Linked DNA regions of Homo sapiens. The protein of the gene in region 5 purifies or fractionates together with the protein of the main gene of each other region. This does not show direct contact. Each region holds a gene or a part of one and is shown on either strand. Other genes may lie near its edges.

The links.
Region 1: the proteins of CCDC61 (region 5) and EPB41L2 purify together in Homo sapiens (tandem affinity purification; one study listed by IntAct). This does not show direct contact.
Region 2: the proteins of CCDC61 (region 5) and CLINT1 purify together in Homo sapiens (tandem affinity purification; one study listed by IntAct). This does not show direct contact.
Region 3: the proteins of CCDC61 (region 5) and CEP131 purify together in Homo sapiens (co-immunoprecipitation; one study listed by IntAct). This does not show direct contact.
Region 4: the proteins of CCDC61 (region 5) and CCDC13 purify together in Homo sapiens (co-immunoprecipitation; one study listed by IntAct). This does not show direct contact.

What each region holds. Positions count from the first base shown.
Region 1 is NC_000006.12:130,838,846-130,841,066, forward strand, and holds the end of EPB41L2 (band 4.1-like protein 2), read right to left. Parts: intron 1,754-2,221; 3' UTR 502-1,753; downstream 1-501. UniProt on the Homo sapiens protein: Required for dynein-dynactin complex and NUMA1 recruitment at the mitotic cell cortex during anaphase.
Region 2 is NC_000005.10:157,849,137-157,852,657, forward strand, and holds part of CLINT1 (clathrin interactor 1), read right to left. Parts: intron 1-3,521. UniProt on the Homo sapiens protein: Binds to membranes enriched in phosphatidylinositol 4,5-bisphosphate (PtdIns(4,5)P2). May have a role in transport via clathrin-coated vesicles from the trans-Golgi network to endosomes. Stimulates clathrin assembly.
Region 3 is NC_000017.11:81,216,458-81,219,978, forward strand, and holds part of CEP131 (centrosomal protein of 131 kDa), read right to left. Parts: coding exon 3,423-3,521; intron 1-3,422. UniProt on the Homo sapiens protein: Component of centriolar satellites contributing to the building of a complex and dynamic network required to regulate cilia/flagellum formation.
Region 4 is NC_000003.12:42,738,736-42,742,256, forward strand, and holds part of CCDC13 (coiled-coil domain-containing protein 13), read right to left. Parts: intron 2,353-3,521; exon of another isoform or gene 2,240-2,352; intron 1,076-2,239; coding exon 899-1,075; intron 1-898. UniProt on the Homo sapiens protein: Required for primary cilia formation and promotes the localization of the ciliopathy protein BBS4 to both centriolar satellites and cilia.
Region 5 is NC_000019.10:45,998,449-46,001,969, reverse strand, and holds part of CCDC61 (centrosomal protein CCDC61), read right to left. Parts: intron 1-3,521. UniProt on the Homo sapiens protein: Microtubule-binding centrosomal protein required for centriole cohesion, independently of the centrosome-associated protein/CEP250 and rootletin/CROCC linker.

The DNA.
Region 1 (2,221 bases), on a different chromosome or scaffold from region 5:
TACCCTGTTGGTTATTTGCTCTATAATAACACCATAACCTGGTGTGCCCCAACAAAAGTTTCACAAGAAAGCATCCCAATCAGACTGGGATGCAGCCCCTCAGTGGCCTAGTTTGCCTGATATACAGAGGGCCAGTGGACACAAAGTAAAGAAGGACATGAAGCAGAGGAGCAAGATTCAGATGGTACAGCTAAAATATTTCCTGAAAACAAAATGAAAAATGCACAAAGAAAACAAGCAAAAATATCCCTCGGAGAATTCGTAAAAGCTGGAATGGATTATGTAACCAGGCAGAAGGAATCTGGCACTCTCAACATTAGATTTACAAACTTTCAACGTCGCTTTCACCGTTTCAAATAGTGATGTTGGCAGCATCATCAAATTACAGAAGAGCTGAAAACAGATTTTGAAATGCTACTTTTCACAAAATACTAAGACTTCTGATGAAAAATATCACTCAAGTTTGTTTTTTTAACCCTTTAGAAAAAGAGAAGTGACAAGTTTAGAGAATAAACAAACTTTATTTTATAATAGTATTACAGGAAGCAAAATATCATTTAATACAACTTGAGGCTGCTATAAATCTAATCTGGCATCGTAACTATACATAGGGTCAAAGGCAAAGGAAAAAATGTTCAATATAGTTAATAAGTCCCTATCGGGTCTCTGGTGCCAGCTTTAAATGGTATAACTTTCTTGTAACCAACAGAACACCACCACAGCCCCCTCCCCCTCTCCCCAGCATCCTCAAACCTGTGTGAATCATAAAACTATCTGAAAGAGATAGGCCTGCTCAATAACAAAAGGTAAGTTTTACATGTGTAGACAAAGAGGTTTAATACAAAGCAAGAGTTCTACCCAAGTGTTCAAATAATGGAAAGAATTGAAATGTGGGTATGTTAAGAAAGAAAGCACTAAGGTTTTAAGCTGCCTGAATCTTTTAGTAGAAGGGAAGAAAGTTTTCTCTTTCTCTTCCCTCCTGTTCTGGAATGCTGCCGAAGGGCATGTGTCTGACAAGCATTGGCACTGTGGTGCGGCAGGGTCTCTAAGCACAGTGCACAGTCAGTGAACTTCTTCATTATTCTCCAGTCCAGAGATTCTGACTCTCTACTAAAAGTAGAAAGTCACAGGACTGGAAAGTCAAAAGGGTCCAATATAAAAAACATCCCTGTGAAATTCTCAAATATTAGAAAATTTTCAAGATGTAAGAAAGGCTTTTAATCTGTATTAATATTTTCTCATACAGTATATTTGCTGCAATTTGAAAACTCCGTAAATATTTACTGTGAGAATTCAATGAAAAGAATCCAGAAGAAGGAAAGCCACTATCTAAATTAGTCACAGAGTTTCCTTTCTGCGCAACAGCACCTGTTCAAGTGAACAGCACCTTACCAGCTTGGGCTGGCTTTGTTCACTGTCATTTGATCAAAGTGAGTCATTAAAAGCAGGTAGTTGCACACAAAGTAAACAGAAAACAAAACCAAAACCCCTTAATTAACAACAACAAAAAGAAAGAACTGAGAATATTTAGAAGTGGTTATAAAACAAAATAATATATTAAATGCATGGGAGCAATATAGACCAGAGCTGGTAAGGAAAGGTTTGGTGTTGGCATTTTAATTCTTCAGGCTTCTGGTCATTGTTACCAGTTGTAGCATAAATTCGCTGGAATAGTGGTGTGGCATTAAGACTTGGAACGGTCAAAAAATCTTCAGGGGTTCACAAAGTTGAGTGTTGTTTAAAAAATGACTTTCTAGAAGAGAAAAAAAAAAAAAAAACAGAAGGCTTAAATATTCCAAAAACACAGGCTTGAAAAAAATGTTAAGTAACATTCATCAAGTTTTCAATCAAGTAATCAACAGTTACTGTCTGCCTAGTCTTACATTAAATAGTATGTTTACCAGAAGACAAGCATGAGACACTATTCCACTCTCGAGGGCCTTAAAATACCTGGAGAATTGACAAGTACGCTAGAAGCAACTGGCAAATAAGAGTTCACTGCAAAAGAATTTATTAGCATAAAACAGAGACAATTCATATGTAAGAATTTAAAGACAGAAACCAAGGTAGGTTTTAAAGCTATACTCAGGGAAAGGGAAAGTCAAAGTCTATTTTCTTTGTGCTAAAACGAATGGAAATGGTGCTTCAGGTGGAAAAACACAATGAGGAAAGAGGCATGGAGGTGAAGAAGTACACAGTATTATGACAGTAAGATGTATGT
Region 2 (3,521 bases), on a different chromosome or scaffold from region 5:
GCTATCGAGCAGCATTGCATGCTACAGAGAAATCATCTGTGAAAGGAAGAATCTATGATGCAGAAAACTTCATTGTTATTTTAAGAAATTGCCACAGCCACCCCAAACTTCAGCAATCCCACAACCCTGATAAGTCAGCAGCCATCAACATGGAGGCAAGATTTTCCACCAGCAGAATGATAAATACCTGCTGAAAGCTCAGATGGCTGTACTTTTTAGCAATAAGATATTTTTAAATTAAGGTATGTACTTTTTTAAACATAATACCATTGTGCATTTAATAGACTACCACATAGTGGAAACATAACTTTTATATGAACTGGGAAACTAAAAATTTGTATGACTTGCTTTATTCCAATATTCACTTTATTGCAGTGGTTTGGAACTAAACCTGTAATATCTCTGAGGTATGCCTGTATAACAATTTTTTTGTTTACATGATGTCTTGTAAAAGATTAGCATAAACTGCTAAATACATATTCTGAAAGTATATCATCTAGATTTAAATCTAGACTATCTTCTAGATGTGCTATCTGTGGCACACTCTTGGCATTCTGTGCCCAATTTCCTCATAAGAAAATTGAACATAACAATGTTGTCACCTTTGTTCTTGGCACATGGCAAATGCTCAATAACTATTAGCTTTTATTATTAGAAATATCTGGATTTAAAGGATATCCTCTGTAATAAATATCAACTTACCAAATTTAATGTATTCATTCAAAAATATTTGAGCGCCTACTATGTGTCATAATTGTTCTAAGAGTTAGTAATACAGCAGTAAACAAAACAAAGTTCCTGCCCTCAAGGAACTTGCATATCAGAGGCAGGAGATGAATACATGTAACAGAGGAAGGCAAGCACAGAAAAAAATAGTGACGAGTGTGAGTGCATACTATGTAATACAGGAGGTCCACTGAACAGAACAGAGAAAGTGAGGGACAGTGGTGGGAGAAGAGATCACAGGCGGGGCAACAAAGAGCCAGATCTGTACAGGCAATTAAGCAATGAGATGAGAAGCCACTGGAGAATTCTGAACCCATTTGACTTAGTATTTTTAAAGAATCCCTCTCGCTGCTGAGTGGACAGCAGATGACAGGGCTAAACATTTTACATGCTTAGTGAGAAACAGGCCATCCTTCAAAGCCCCATTCAGTACCGAACTTATAAGCCAAATACATCAAACTAAGGATATTACTGGCTGGGCACAGTGGCTCACGCCTATAATCCTAGCACTTTGGGAGGCTTGAGGCGGGCGGATTGCCTGAGCTCAAGAGTTTGAGCCCAGCCTGGGGAGCATGATGAAACCCTATCTCTACAAAAAATTAGCCGGGCATGGTGGTAAGCACCTGTAGTCCCTCTTACTTGGGGGACTAAGGTGGGAGGATGGATTGAGCCCAGGAGGTCAAGGCTGCAGTGAGTCAAGATCGTGCATGCCACTGCGCTCCAGCCTGGGTACAAGTGAGACCCTGTCTCAAAAAAAAAAAAAAAAAAAAAAAAAAATTATTTAACCATGGGGGTTTAACTACAAATTAAGACATGTAGTTTCAACCGTATAACCTAAGTCACTTTAAAAAGTGATAAATGAAAAATTAGTATGAGAAAAATTAATAGAAAAAGGCTCAGTATGCCTATTAGCATTGTTCTTTTTTTTAATATTAAAAAAAATTTTTTTAGAGACAAAGTTTCACTCTGTTGCCCAGGCTAGAGTGCAGTGGCACAATCACAGCTCACTGCAGCTTTCAACTCCTGGGTTCAAGTGATCCTCCCATTTCAGCCTCCCATGTAGCTGGGACTATAGGCATGCATCACCATGTCCGGCTAATTTTTTAATTTTTTTGTAGAGACAAGGTCTGTGTTGCCCAGGCTAGTCTTGGACTACTGGGCTCAAGAGATCTTCCCTTCTCGGCCTCCCAAAGTGTTGGGATTACAGTTGTGAGCCACGGCACCTGGCCTTGCACTGTTCTTTAATGATTTACTAAAAATGCATGAAAACAAATGGCAAACAAACAAACAAACAAAAAACCCGAAAATTGAATTTTCAATGCATGCCTTTTTTCTACTATAAAAATATAAGCTATTTGAATGAGAATTCTTGAATGAAACATTTCATTCAATAGTTGTTGAAAAAGCACGCATGTACGTTTACCACATAATGATGAGTGTGTGCAAAATTATAAAAGATTATTTATATTAAAGTTATCTAGAACTTAAATACTGTCCTAAGAATTGAGAAGCTAAATAAAATTCATGTCAAAACAAATATTCTAGGCCAGGCACAGTGGCTCACACCTGCAATTCCAGCATTTTGGGAGGCCACGGTGGGTAGATTGCTTGAGCTCAGGAGTTCGAGACCAGCCTGGGAAATGCGGCAAAACTCCATTTCTACCAAAATACAAAAATTAGCTGGGTGTTGTGACATGTGTCTGTCGTCCCAGCTACTTGGGAGGATCGCTTAAGCTACTTGGGAGGATCGCTTAAACCTAGGAGGCTGAAGCAGAGATGGCACCATTACACTCCAGCCTGAGTGACAGAGCAAGACCCCGTCTCAAAAAAAAAAAAAAAAAAGAAATGAAATATTCTAAAATTGGCTAACTAGACTCTTCTTAAATGAAGTACAAACCATTCATGTGCACTGTTGCACATTAACAAAATCACTCACATTTAATAATTCGTTAGCTAAATCTATCCACAAGTAATAAGTAGCTATAAATTGGCTCAAACATAGGAATATATTACGTTCCTTTACCTGTATTTAATTTTCAGGCAAAAGAGCCCTGGTAAGCCAAATAATTTCTTGCCAATTTGAGGGGTTGAATAACCAGAAAGCCCTTTCTCCAATGTGCTTTCCTTGTATATACTGTTTGTCCATTGTCAAACACCATGAATTTGGTATCACATATTTTAGAGGATTCTTTTTCTTGATATTGTTCAGTCTCTTAAGAATAAATTGTCTGCTTCAATTTGCATTTATGAAATAAATCTTTTTATGTTTTAGTAATGTTTTACATTAGCAGTTACTTTAAAATCTTGAGAATACACAAAACAAGCTGAACAAAATATTAAGAATTGGCAGATGGAATTCGCGATATGTCTTTCCAAAGACTTTATTCCTCAACATGTCTTTTGAAAGGGTATTTCTGCAATATGCTTTGCAATATTAAAGTAGAAGCCATTTATGATTTAGCAAAAATAATACAAGGCATAAACAACAGAGGTATTTAAATTAGCTGTCCTATATGTAGGCTAAACTGAGTCTTAAGAGAGAGTACTCACTGAAAATAATGATTTCATGGATGAAGATATAGTTCCTACATACTTACAAATAACCTAGTCTGACAATGATATCTCTATTTTCACAAACACTGTATTCCTTTGATTTTTCTAGTGTTATACTGTTTTGTGTGTAACAGTAATAACAGTAATAGATGTTTCAAGAGTTTACTGTATGTCAAGTACTATACTGTTTCACATTTAATCCTCATAATCCTATAAAATATCATCTCTATTTTACAGAGAAA
Region 3 (3,521 bases), on a different chromosome or scaffold from region 5:
GAGGTGGAGGCTGCAGTAAGCTGTGGTTTCTCCACTGCACTCCAGCCTGGGCAACAGAGCAAGACCCCGTCTTAAAAAGAAAAAGAAAAGAGAATGCAGGAGCCCCACGCAGCTGACGGATACGGCACTTGTTCCAACACATCTCCAGCATCACTGATGCCTGTGTGCCCAGAGTAAGTGTGGGTGCAGGAGAAACAGAACAGTGGCCGCCTAGGAGAGGCCCGCAAGGTCGGGCAGGACAGGCTCACTGCTCAATGAGCCCCCTTTTCCCAAATGGTGGGTGTGAATGGCCTATTCAAAACACATGGTAGGAATTTTGAAATCATCCCCCAAAATGGCACCAGTCATTGCATCAGGGCCATGGGATTATGGGTGCCCTTCATCCTGTCTCCATTTTCCTGGGGTCAGTTTCGCAGCCTCCAAGAGGAAGATAAGGGATGTCAGGGGAGGGATGAAGGGGCTGCCACTCACTGACGGACACCACGGTGGAAAGGCACCACTCATGCTCAGATGGTAAATCAAGTCATGGACTAAAAACCCTAAACTCCACCTGCAAGAAGGAGGCAACATCGCCCAGGGAGGGGCAGGTGGCCCCCATGGCCATGACACATATGCACAGTGATGTCTGTTCCCCAGTGAGCTTGTGCTCTTGGGATTTAAAGACCTCTTTTCTTTAAGGGGAAGGGAACCAGAGTGAATAATGATCTAGGGGGCTAGAGGATCAGGTGGGCACACAGCTGGGGCAAGGAAGAGGGACCCTCTACAGTCTGGCACCGACATCTCTTGAGCCAGAAGACCAGCAGGAACTGCAGTTACATCCTGGATGGGGAATCCCGGGACAGCAGGCCGTGGACGCAGGAAGATCTTTAGAGACAAGGGGTAGAGTGGAAACCCCAGGCCAATGGCCACCGAGAAGGTCTCCGAGCCAGGGGACAGCACCCCACCCCACCCACAAACACCAGGAGGAAGAGAATCACGTGCCGCCTTGTACAGGTGTGAAGCCATGCCTGGCCAAAACAAATGCTCTCCAGGAATCCCGATGAGACTGAGTGGTAGCAGGGCAGGTGGCCGAGAGGATGGGGACCGGGCACAACAGAAACCCCTGAGGTCACGTCACACACTGGCGGGGGTTCCTCTTCCACCAGCAGTTCCCGAGCTCCCACCATGGGCACAACAGAAGGCAGACAGGCATGCAGGGGTGGGGCCGTCTCGGATCGAGCGAGGGCCTCAAAGAATTGAAGTGAACAGCTGGAACATTCCATGAACGAGGGGACTGTTAGCAGTCGCCACTCAACACTGCGGGAGCGGGCAATGGTACCAGCCGAGGAAAGGAGGGATCGATATGAGTAGCGCTCGCTGTGGCTTTGAACCTCTACTCAGCAACAGAACATTTCCCAGCAGAAAGGCTGGGAGTGTGGTTAGGTGCCTGGGTCGGCCGCGGATAGAGCCTGGCCATGCCGCCGAAAGACCATCTACTAGAAAGCCCGGAAACTTTTACAACAGTCTCCACACAACAAGAGAGCTGCAATTTCTTTCTTTCTCCTTCTCCCTCTCCCTCTCCCTCCCCCTCCCCCTCCCTCTTTCTTTCTTTCTTTCTTTTTTTGAGACAGAGTCTTGCTCTTTCGCCCAGGCTGGAGTACAGTGGCATGATCTCGGCTCACTGCAGCCTCCTCCGCCCGGGTTCAAGCAACTCTCCTGTCTCAGCCTCCTGAGTAGCTGGGATTAAGGGTGCGCGCCACCACGCCCGGCTAATTTTTGCATTTTCAGTAGAGGCAGGGTTTCACTATGTTGGCCAGGCTGGTATTGAACTCCTGACCTCAGGTGATCCACCCGCCTCAACCTCCCAAAGTGCTGGGATCACGGGCGTGAGCCACCTCGCCCAGCCCAGATCTGCGATTTCGAGTGCGTCTTCCCCGCCCCATGTGCCATGAACCTAGGGCTTTAGAAACAGCGGGAGGGGCCAAGGCAGGTGGGCGAGGGGGTCAGTGACGCAGGAGCAGGGCTGCGGACAGGAGAGGCAGCAGGCTCAGAGACGGCTCTAGCCCAAGCTGGTTACCCCTCTGCTAAAACAGTGCAGCATATTTTTATTTTCACAGCTTACGTCTGTAAATGCCTAGAGGCGTACCACATCTTTAGACAACCTGCCGGCCACAATGACACATCAGGACATCCCGGGTCCCCGCCCTGCTGGCCCAGGCTTTGGGAACCTGCTTGGTCCAAGGGTCCGCTACTGGCCCGGCTGCCCTTACCCCGGAACTCGGCTAGCCGTCTGGCGGGCCACACCCTGCCCACCTGGGGGTGCTTCTAGGGCAGACACAGGAATAACTTTTTCAAGGAGAAGGGGGAGGTCCAAGCCTTTTATTCACAGTGGAACCCTGGCCTGGGCCTGCCAGGGGTTCCTGTGGGAAGCCTCAACTGCCCTCCAGACCCCTTCTCTCTGCCCTGCTATGTTGCCTGGCACGGACCTCAGGCAGGGAGCCCCAGACCGGCTGCCGCATGGAAGCCAAGGCCCCCAGGCCCTTGCTATTCGGAAGCTCAGGCCAGACTCTGGTCAGGCTCTGCCCCAACCCCCACAGAGCGGCTCGATTCCTCCCTTGCCCCAAAGACTGGGCCTGGCAGACACCAACTCAGGGTGCAGCAGGCCCGGCCTGCCTTTCACAGCCCCCATCTGGGAACCACCCACCCTCCTCCCTACTCCCAGAGGTGGGCAGGAAAGGCAGCTCTCACCCCGAAGCTCCCACGGCTGTCCTGCTGCCCACACACCCACACACCCGTCTAGGTTTCTCCAAGGCCACCAGGAGCTCATCACCCCTCCCCACAGGTCAACCCCATTTCTTTCTTTTTTTTTTTTTTTTGAGATGGCATCTCACTCTGTCGCCAGGCTGGAGTGCAACGGCACGATCTCGGCTCACCGCAACCTCTGCCTCCTGGGTTCGAGCAAATCTCCTGCCTCAGCCTCCCGAGTAGCTAGGATTACAGGCATGCACCACCATGCCCGGCTAATTTTTTTTTGTATCTTTAGTAGAGACGGAGTTTCACCATGTTGGTCAGGCTGGTCTTGAACTGCTGACCTCAGATGACCCGCCTGCCTCGGCCTCCCAAAGTGCTGAGATTACAGGCGTGAGCCACCGAGCCCAGCCAACCCCATTTCCTGAGGATTCAAACAAATCCAAAGGGCGGTGGCACAGGAGGCCTGGGGCTGTTGCTGAAAGAATCCAAGCTCTGGCTTGACTTTCTAGTGATTCAGCACCCACGCCTGTAAGACTCAAGTCCTACCTGCCTCCTGGAACAGCCACGAGGATCCAGCATGTCCAGATGTGAGGCACTTGTTCACCTGTGGAGCTGGACCCAGGGGTCAGATGCCAACTGAACAACAGCCCTCCAGGAGGCAGGGGCCCGGACTCCTAGGCCACAGTACTCACCAGCACCTTCCTCTTCTGCTCGCTGCCTGTGACCACGGAGACAGAGCGGACGATGGGCTTGGTGGTGGCGGCACTGCCAGGACGCCGGGACACAGGCGG
Region 4 (3,521 bases), on a different chromosome or scaffold from region 5:
GCTTGGGATTTTTGCACATTGATTTTGTATCCTGAGACTCCTGAAGTTGCTTATCAGCTTAAGGAGATTTTGGGCTGAGATGATGGGGTTTTCTAAATATACAATCATGTCATCTGCAAACAGGAACAATTTGACTTCCTCATTTCCTATTTGAATACCCTTTATTTCTTTCTCTTGCCTGATCGCCCTGGCCAGAACTTCCAACACTATGTTGAATAGGAGTGGTGAGAGAGGGCATCCTTGTCCTGTGCTGGTTTTCAAAGGGAATGCTTCCAGTTTTTGCCCATTCAGTATGATATTGGCTGTGGGTTTGTCATAAATAGCTCTTATTATTTTGAGATACGTTTAATCCAGGAAGTTTTTATAGTCAGATAAACCTGCTTTGAACTCAGTTGTATGGTCTTAGATGAGTTATCTAATGAATTTGAGTCTTAGTTTCCCCATCTGTGAAGTGGGATTAAAATATATGATCCTAGAAGTTATCTTAGGGACTAAGCATTATAACATGCCCAGAAGAGGAAGGGTTCTGTGCCACTGCAGAGATAAGAACTGGTACTGGCTCCTCTTGTCCCTTTCATTCCTTGCTGAAAAATAACCCAGGGTATAATCCCACCTCCTTCCCCCAATACATTTCTGTCTCTTTTGGGGTCCATAGGCCCAGTGCCTTGTGCCTGGTGCTGCTCCATCACAGCCCCCTACCTGCCCTCAGGCAGCCTCCCTGAGCTGCTCCTGTCCCTGGGGCAGGGCTTTGGTACTGGGGGCCATCTGGAGGCAACGGGCTTTGGGGTTACACAGGTGGCATTGAGGGGTGAGTGAGGGCTCACTCTGGCCATGGCTGGGGCCCATCCTTTGAGGAACCACCCCTGGCTCTCGCCCTGCCTGAGTGGTGGGGCCATACCATGAGGGCGTCGATGAGCTCGTCATCATGCCGGCCCTTCTCCACCAGGGTTCCCATCTGACTCTTGAGGGTCTTCATCTCACTTGACAGCAGCTTGTTCCGAGACCTCATGCCCTCGAACTTCTTTTTTAGCTCTTCAAGCTCTCTCTGGAGGACATCCCGTTCACTGGCAAGTTTCTGTAATTAGAAAGTGAGGGCATGGGCAGCAGGGCTGTGTGGGACCTTGGCCACATCTGCTCCCTGGCTCCTACTCAATGGCAAGGCCCGGGGCTGGGGGTGGGGGTGCTTGTTGAATGCCACAGAGCAAGTCACTAGAGCCAGGGCCCTGACTCCCAGCCCAGGCCTCTCAGGGATATCAGGTGGCCAGCAGCCTCCCACCCTTCCCCTAGCACATGACAGCACTAACCCATGACAGCACTCCTAACCTCAGCCTGAGACACAGACTTCCTAGCACATGAGAGGAAAGCCGCCAGCCAACTGCGTGTGTCCTCCAGAGAGCACAGCCAGTCCTACCCCTAAGCCCCTCCCCAAGCAGGGGAAAAGAGAAAAGCCATACTTTAGAAAAAGAGTGCTGGGCTAGGTTCCAACTGCAGCACCTTGCACCACCAGGAGCTAGAATGAGAAAGGAGGGTCTTTTCTCCCACTTCCTCCATGATTATTTGGCACAACCCCTGACAGCACCTTGCTTTGTCAGCTACCAACTGGAAACTCACATGCAGCACACATCTTCGGAGTCTCTCATTCAATCATCCCTTCATTCTCGAGGGTTTCCTGAGGGCCTACTATGGGTTTCCTGAGGTTTCCTACTATGGTTTCCTGAGGGCCTACTATGGGCTTAGTATTGTTATAGATGCTGGGGGACAGCAAAAAGCAAAACAGTCCTTGTCCTCAAGGAGCTGATAATCCTAATGGAGGAGACAGATAATGTCAAATAGTGACAAATGCTAATTTGAAAGTAGGAAACAGGAATAGCGAGAAGGATATGGTCAGGTAAGGCCTTTCTGAAAAGGTGGCATCTGAGCAGAGACTGAAGGAGATGAAGGGAAGAGCAAAGGCCCTGGGGTAGAAGGTGTGTGGCTGGAGCACAGTGAGTGAAGGGGCAGAGGTTAGATTAGGCAAACCCATAAAGACAAGATGGAGACATTGGGGAGGAGCTTGGGCAGTGGGTGACATCACCTGCTTGATCCTGAGGGTGAATTGTTGCTGGAAAAGTATTTTCATATCCTTGATGAAGTGAATTATAGAAATGCAAAACAAGTAAAACATGAATCTATAGGACACAAGCCCTTTGCAGGGAGGCAGCCATTACTCACCTGTTGCTCTCCTGCCTACACACTCCAGGCTCTTATGGGTGCCTGCCAGAGGGAATGCATGCAGGAAGCTGTTTCCTTCCACCCGCTATTGCAGCTTATGGTCAGCCCAACTGTTCAACATAATCTGTTCTGCACTAACATGTAAGTTCAAGCTAGGTGCATTTCAAACCCAGCATTTCCAAATCTCAACTCCCTTTCTCTTCTTGAACCCACCCTGTCTCCCTTACCCACCCACTATACTCCCTAGAAGTCCTTTATAACTCTTCCTCCTCATCTCTCTTCCAAGTCCAATCAGTCCTTGAGCCCTAGAAAGTCTGTCCTCACTGTCCCAGGTGTCTGGCCCTTCCATGACAGTCCACTATCTTGGCAAAGATCTTTGGTCATGTCTCCAGGATTACTATTCTGCCTTCCATTCCTCTTCCAACCCATTCCTCCTCTTGCTCCAACCATGTGACCTTTCCAAAATGCACAGCTGACCACCTCCCTCCACAAATTAAAACCCTGTCGTGGGCTCGGCGAATGGCTCACACCTGTAATCCCAGCACTTTGTGAGGCCGAGGCAGGTGGATCACCTGACGTTAGGAATTTGAGACCAGCCTGACCAACACAGTGAAACCCTGTCTCTACTAAATATATAAAAATTAGCCGGGCATGGTGGCAGGTGCCTGTAATCCCAGCTACTTGGGAGGCTGAGGCAGGAGAATCACTTGAACCCCGGAGGCGGAGGTTGCAGTAAGCCAAGATCACACCATTGCACTCCAGCCTGGGCAACAGAGCGAGACTCTATCTAAAAAAAAACAAAAACCGTTTGGTGGTTCTCCACAGCCTTCAAGATACAGGCCAAAAGTCCTGGCTGGCATACAAAGCCCAGCAGGCCCTGTCCACTTCTGTGGTCTCACTGTTTCCCTCCTCACAGCTGATGGTCTACAGCGCTGGGAGGTGCAATGTGGTCATGGTTACAGCATTCCTAACACAGGGCCTAACCCAGCGTTGGTGCTCACAGGCAAAAGTCTCCAGATGAAAAGGCAAGTCCTCACTGTTAGGTAGCTCACTGCCAGGGCCACTACGTGGGCCTGTTGTATGGCCTGCCTGCACCTCTTCATGCTGCTTCTGTTACCTTCTTTAAAGTGGCCCCTACTCCCTACTCTCATTGCAAGTTTGGGGAGGCTAACTCATCCCCTCAAACCTTGGGGCAGGTGTCTGAAGCTTGACCAATCAAAACACCCTGTACTCTTGGCTACAGTGATGGGCTCAAGGATGGTCACATAACCCAGGCTAGACCAAAGACACTCAATTCTGGGACTTTGTTG
Region 5 (3,521 bases):
CCATCTCAAAAAATAAAATAAAATCTAATATCAGAAAATACAATATTGTGAGGCAAAAAAGATGATCCTTGAAACTCCAGGTAAGGGATTTTTAACCTTTTTAGAGTCCTTGAGCCTTTGAGAATCTAATGAAATTTCTGAGCCTTCTGCAGATAAATGAATAGTCCCAAAACCTTTTGCAAGTTCATTTCAGTGGCTCCCAAATTACCACCCCCCAGGCCCATCCACAGATCTCTTTTCTCAGAGGCCCAAGGGCAATGGCGTAGGCCCTAGACCTCCTGACAGACACCTCTCTCTAGATCACAGCTCTTAACTTCATTTGGGAGAAGAGTGCTTTGGAAGGGCTGATGAATTCGGGGACCCCCTTCCCCTGGAAAATTCACATTCTGGCAATTGTGCTTTCATTCTCTGATGGTTCATAAGTCCAGGTTAATAATCTCGATCTCGTCCGTGTGCGTTGGCTCACGCCTGTAATCCCAGCACTTTGGGAGGCCGAGGAGGGTGGATCATTTGAGGTCAGCTCGAGACCGGCCTCGCCAACATGGTGAAACCTCGTCTCTACTAAAAATACAAAAATTAGCTGGGCGTGGTGGCAGGTGCCTGTAATCCCAGCTACTCGGGAGGCTGAGACAGGAGAATCGCTTGAACCCGGGAGGCAGAGGTTGCTGTGAGCCAAGATCATGCCATTGCACTCCAGCCTGGGTAACAGAGCAAGATTCTGTCTCAGAAAAAACAAATAAATAAAAAATAATAATCTCGATCTTGCTGCAAACAAATTGCCGCATATCCCACATCCCCTGACCCCAATGCAGTGCGTGGCAGCACTGGCCCCGCCCCACTGGGTGTTCTAAACCCCGCCCATCAACCCCACCCCCTCCGGCTCCCAGAACCTATCAGCGGCGACACCGTCCGGGTTACCAAGGCGTAGGAGGCACCCACGGAACTGAACACCTGAGGAGCCGCACAGCATCACCGCCCCCACTCGTGGTCCCCAACTCCCGGGAGGAGACCGCACAGAGGAAGGGGGCCCGCCACACCGCATCCCCGCCGCCAACTCCCCTTTCCCCACTGCTCGGCAGAAACCCCCCATACCCACCCCGCGAAGAGCAGCCCCTTTCGGCATCCCATTGCCTTGTCCTTAGCCCCCACCCCGCCCTGATCCCAGACACTGAGCCACCGAATACTCTGCCTAAACTCAATTCCCCTTGCACACTTACACCTCTCTCACCTCCACAAACTTCACCCGCTGCCCGGCCCCTTCCCCTCCTCTAGGCATGTCCTAAGTGCTCAGTAACTGCTGATGGAATAAATCCCACACCCGTGCCAGCTCCACACGGCCTCCCTGACCCCAGCTGCCCGTCACTTGTCCCCCAGATGGCCACGGAATTCTGGACTCCCCTTCCCCTCCTCTCTGCAGAACCTCCCACTCCACATATTCCAGCCCAACCCTCATGCTACATTCCCCGGAAACCAGCCCCCTCTCTCCCGTCCAAAGCCCCTTCATTCCATCCTGCTCTCCCAGATTTGGGGGCAGGGAGGCAGCCGCACTCTCCTCCCTACACCAGCCACCCACGGTCTCCTAGGGCTCCCGCATATTCAACTTCAATGCACCCCGTTATTCCAACTGCATTCTTCCCGCATATTTGCTCAAGGTTCTGCTCCACACATCCCACTTTCAGCCTGTATTCCATCACTCCCATATTTCACCTGGATTCTGTTCCCTCCCAAATTGCTTGTAACCCCACCCCCAACCCCCACTCCACCCGCACACATATTTTCCACCTCTCTTCCCTTTAGAGAGCCCTCTCTGAACAACCCCTCCTCTCCACTGACCCCACCACCACCGCCACTTCTAGGATTCCCCGGACCCTGAGCCCCCTCTCCCCTCCCGCCGCTGACCCTGTCCCTCTACCTGCATCCTCCATCCTTGCTTCGGAATGACCAGTGGCTCATCCTGGTGGCTGATTTCATTCCAGTCCTGAGCCTCTCCCAGTTCCTCTTCTCAGCCTCTGCCTCCTTCCTGACCTCACGCATCCCAGCGGTGCCTTCGAGGCCCCGCCCTCACCAACCCATGACGTCACCACCCCATCCCTGCGAGCACTGTGCGGCTGCCCTCCAGGCCCCATCCTGGCCCACACACCTGACCCACTTCTCGGGCCTCATGACATCATGGCGCTGGCACACTTACACCCAGTGTTTCAGCCCCCAGCTCTCTCCCTCTCATCATTCACTAGGATGACCCCTTTCCTTTCCAGCGTTACATCACCACCCCTGGCTCCACCTTCCAAATGGCTCTCCCCAGATAGCTCACAGATTTCACAGCTCTTACCCCGGGGCCGGAGCTGAAAACTCTCCACGCTGGGCTCACCAAAGACAAATCTACATCACTACCTCCCATACCAGACACGGGCAAATCACTGCCCTTGGCAGCCCACACCTGATGGCTGTTTCCCCACACTCTGCAGCTCCCCACCACCGCCAACACATATTCCAGCCCAGCCATACCCTAGATGGGCTCTCTCCTGCAGCAGCCCTCCGCCCCACATTCACACGCGTGGCCTGGCCTGGATGACCCCCTTCCCGACCCCATTCTGACCTCACCTCCCCACCACGTGGGTGAATTGAGGCTGGATAGAACCCCCCCTTCACTGCCCCAGAATACAGACCAAAGCCTTCCACATTGTCCCCATAGACTGTAGAGACAGAGAAGCCCTCTGGGGAACCAAGCAATGAAATCTCTACGGTGCACACTGCGGCACCCCAGTTCCCCCTGGGGCATCAACTCCCTCTCCCACTGTCTCTCAAAGGCAAACTTTTGCCTTAGATAAGGACCATGCACACTTATTAACCCAATGAATGACTCACCCTAAATTCTGCTCTCTGGTGGGTATTATAACCATCCCCATTATACAGAGGATGAAACTGAGGCTTGTCTAGGATCCCACCATGAAAGACAGAAACATTCGTCTTCCTTCCCCTTACCCAGCTGACCTTCCCTGACCACCTCCTGTTTCCTCCCAGAACTAACCCAAATGCGGCCTCACACCTTAAGCATGGCACATGCTGCAGGCTGGGTACTTCTGGGTTCAGATTCCAGCTGCCTTTCTCCTTGGTGTGTCCTTGGGCAAAGTACTTGCCCTCTCTGGGCCTTCCCCCATCAGTAAAGCGGGATAATAAGAGCTCCTACCTTATAGGGTTGTTGTTGAACTAAATTATTTAGTGTATATAAGGTGCTTCAAACAGTGGCTGGCACTCCCTGTTACCATCTGTGTGATCTGTTGATTATTTGACAGACCAGGAGCCCGTGAGGGCAGAGCCATTTTAATCAATCTTGTATCTTCAGGGACTGCTTGTGAATTTAACGGGAGATGCCAGGGAATGGGGTTCTAGACACTGGGGATACAGCCAAGGTTTTCTCCCCTCGGCTCATTCCCTGTCATCCTCCAGGTCTCAGCTCCAATCCCCTCTCCTGCAGGAAGCCCTCCCTGACTCCCAGGCTGGGTCAGGAGCTGTCTCAATCA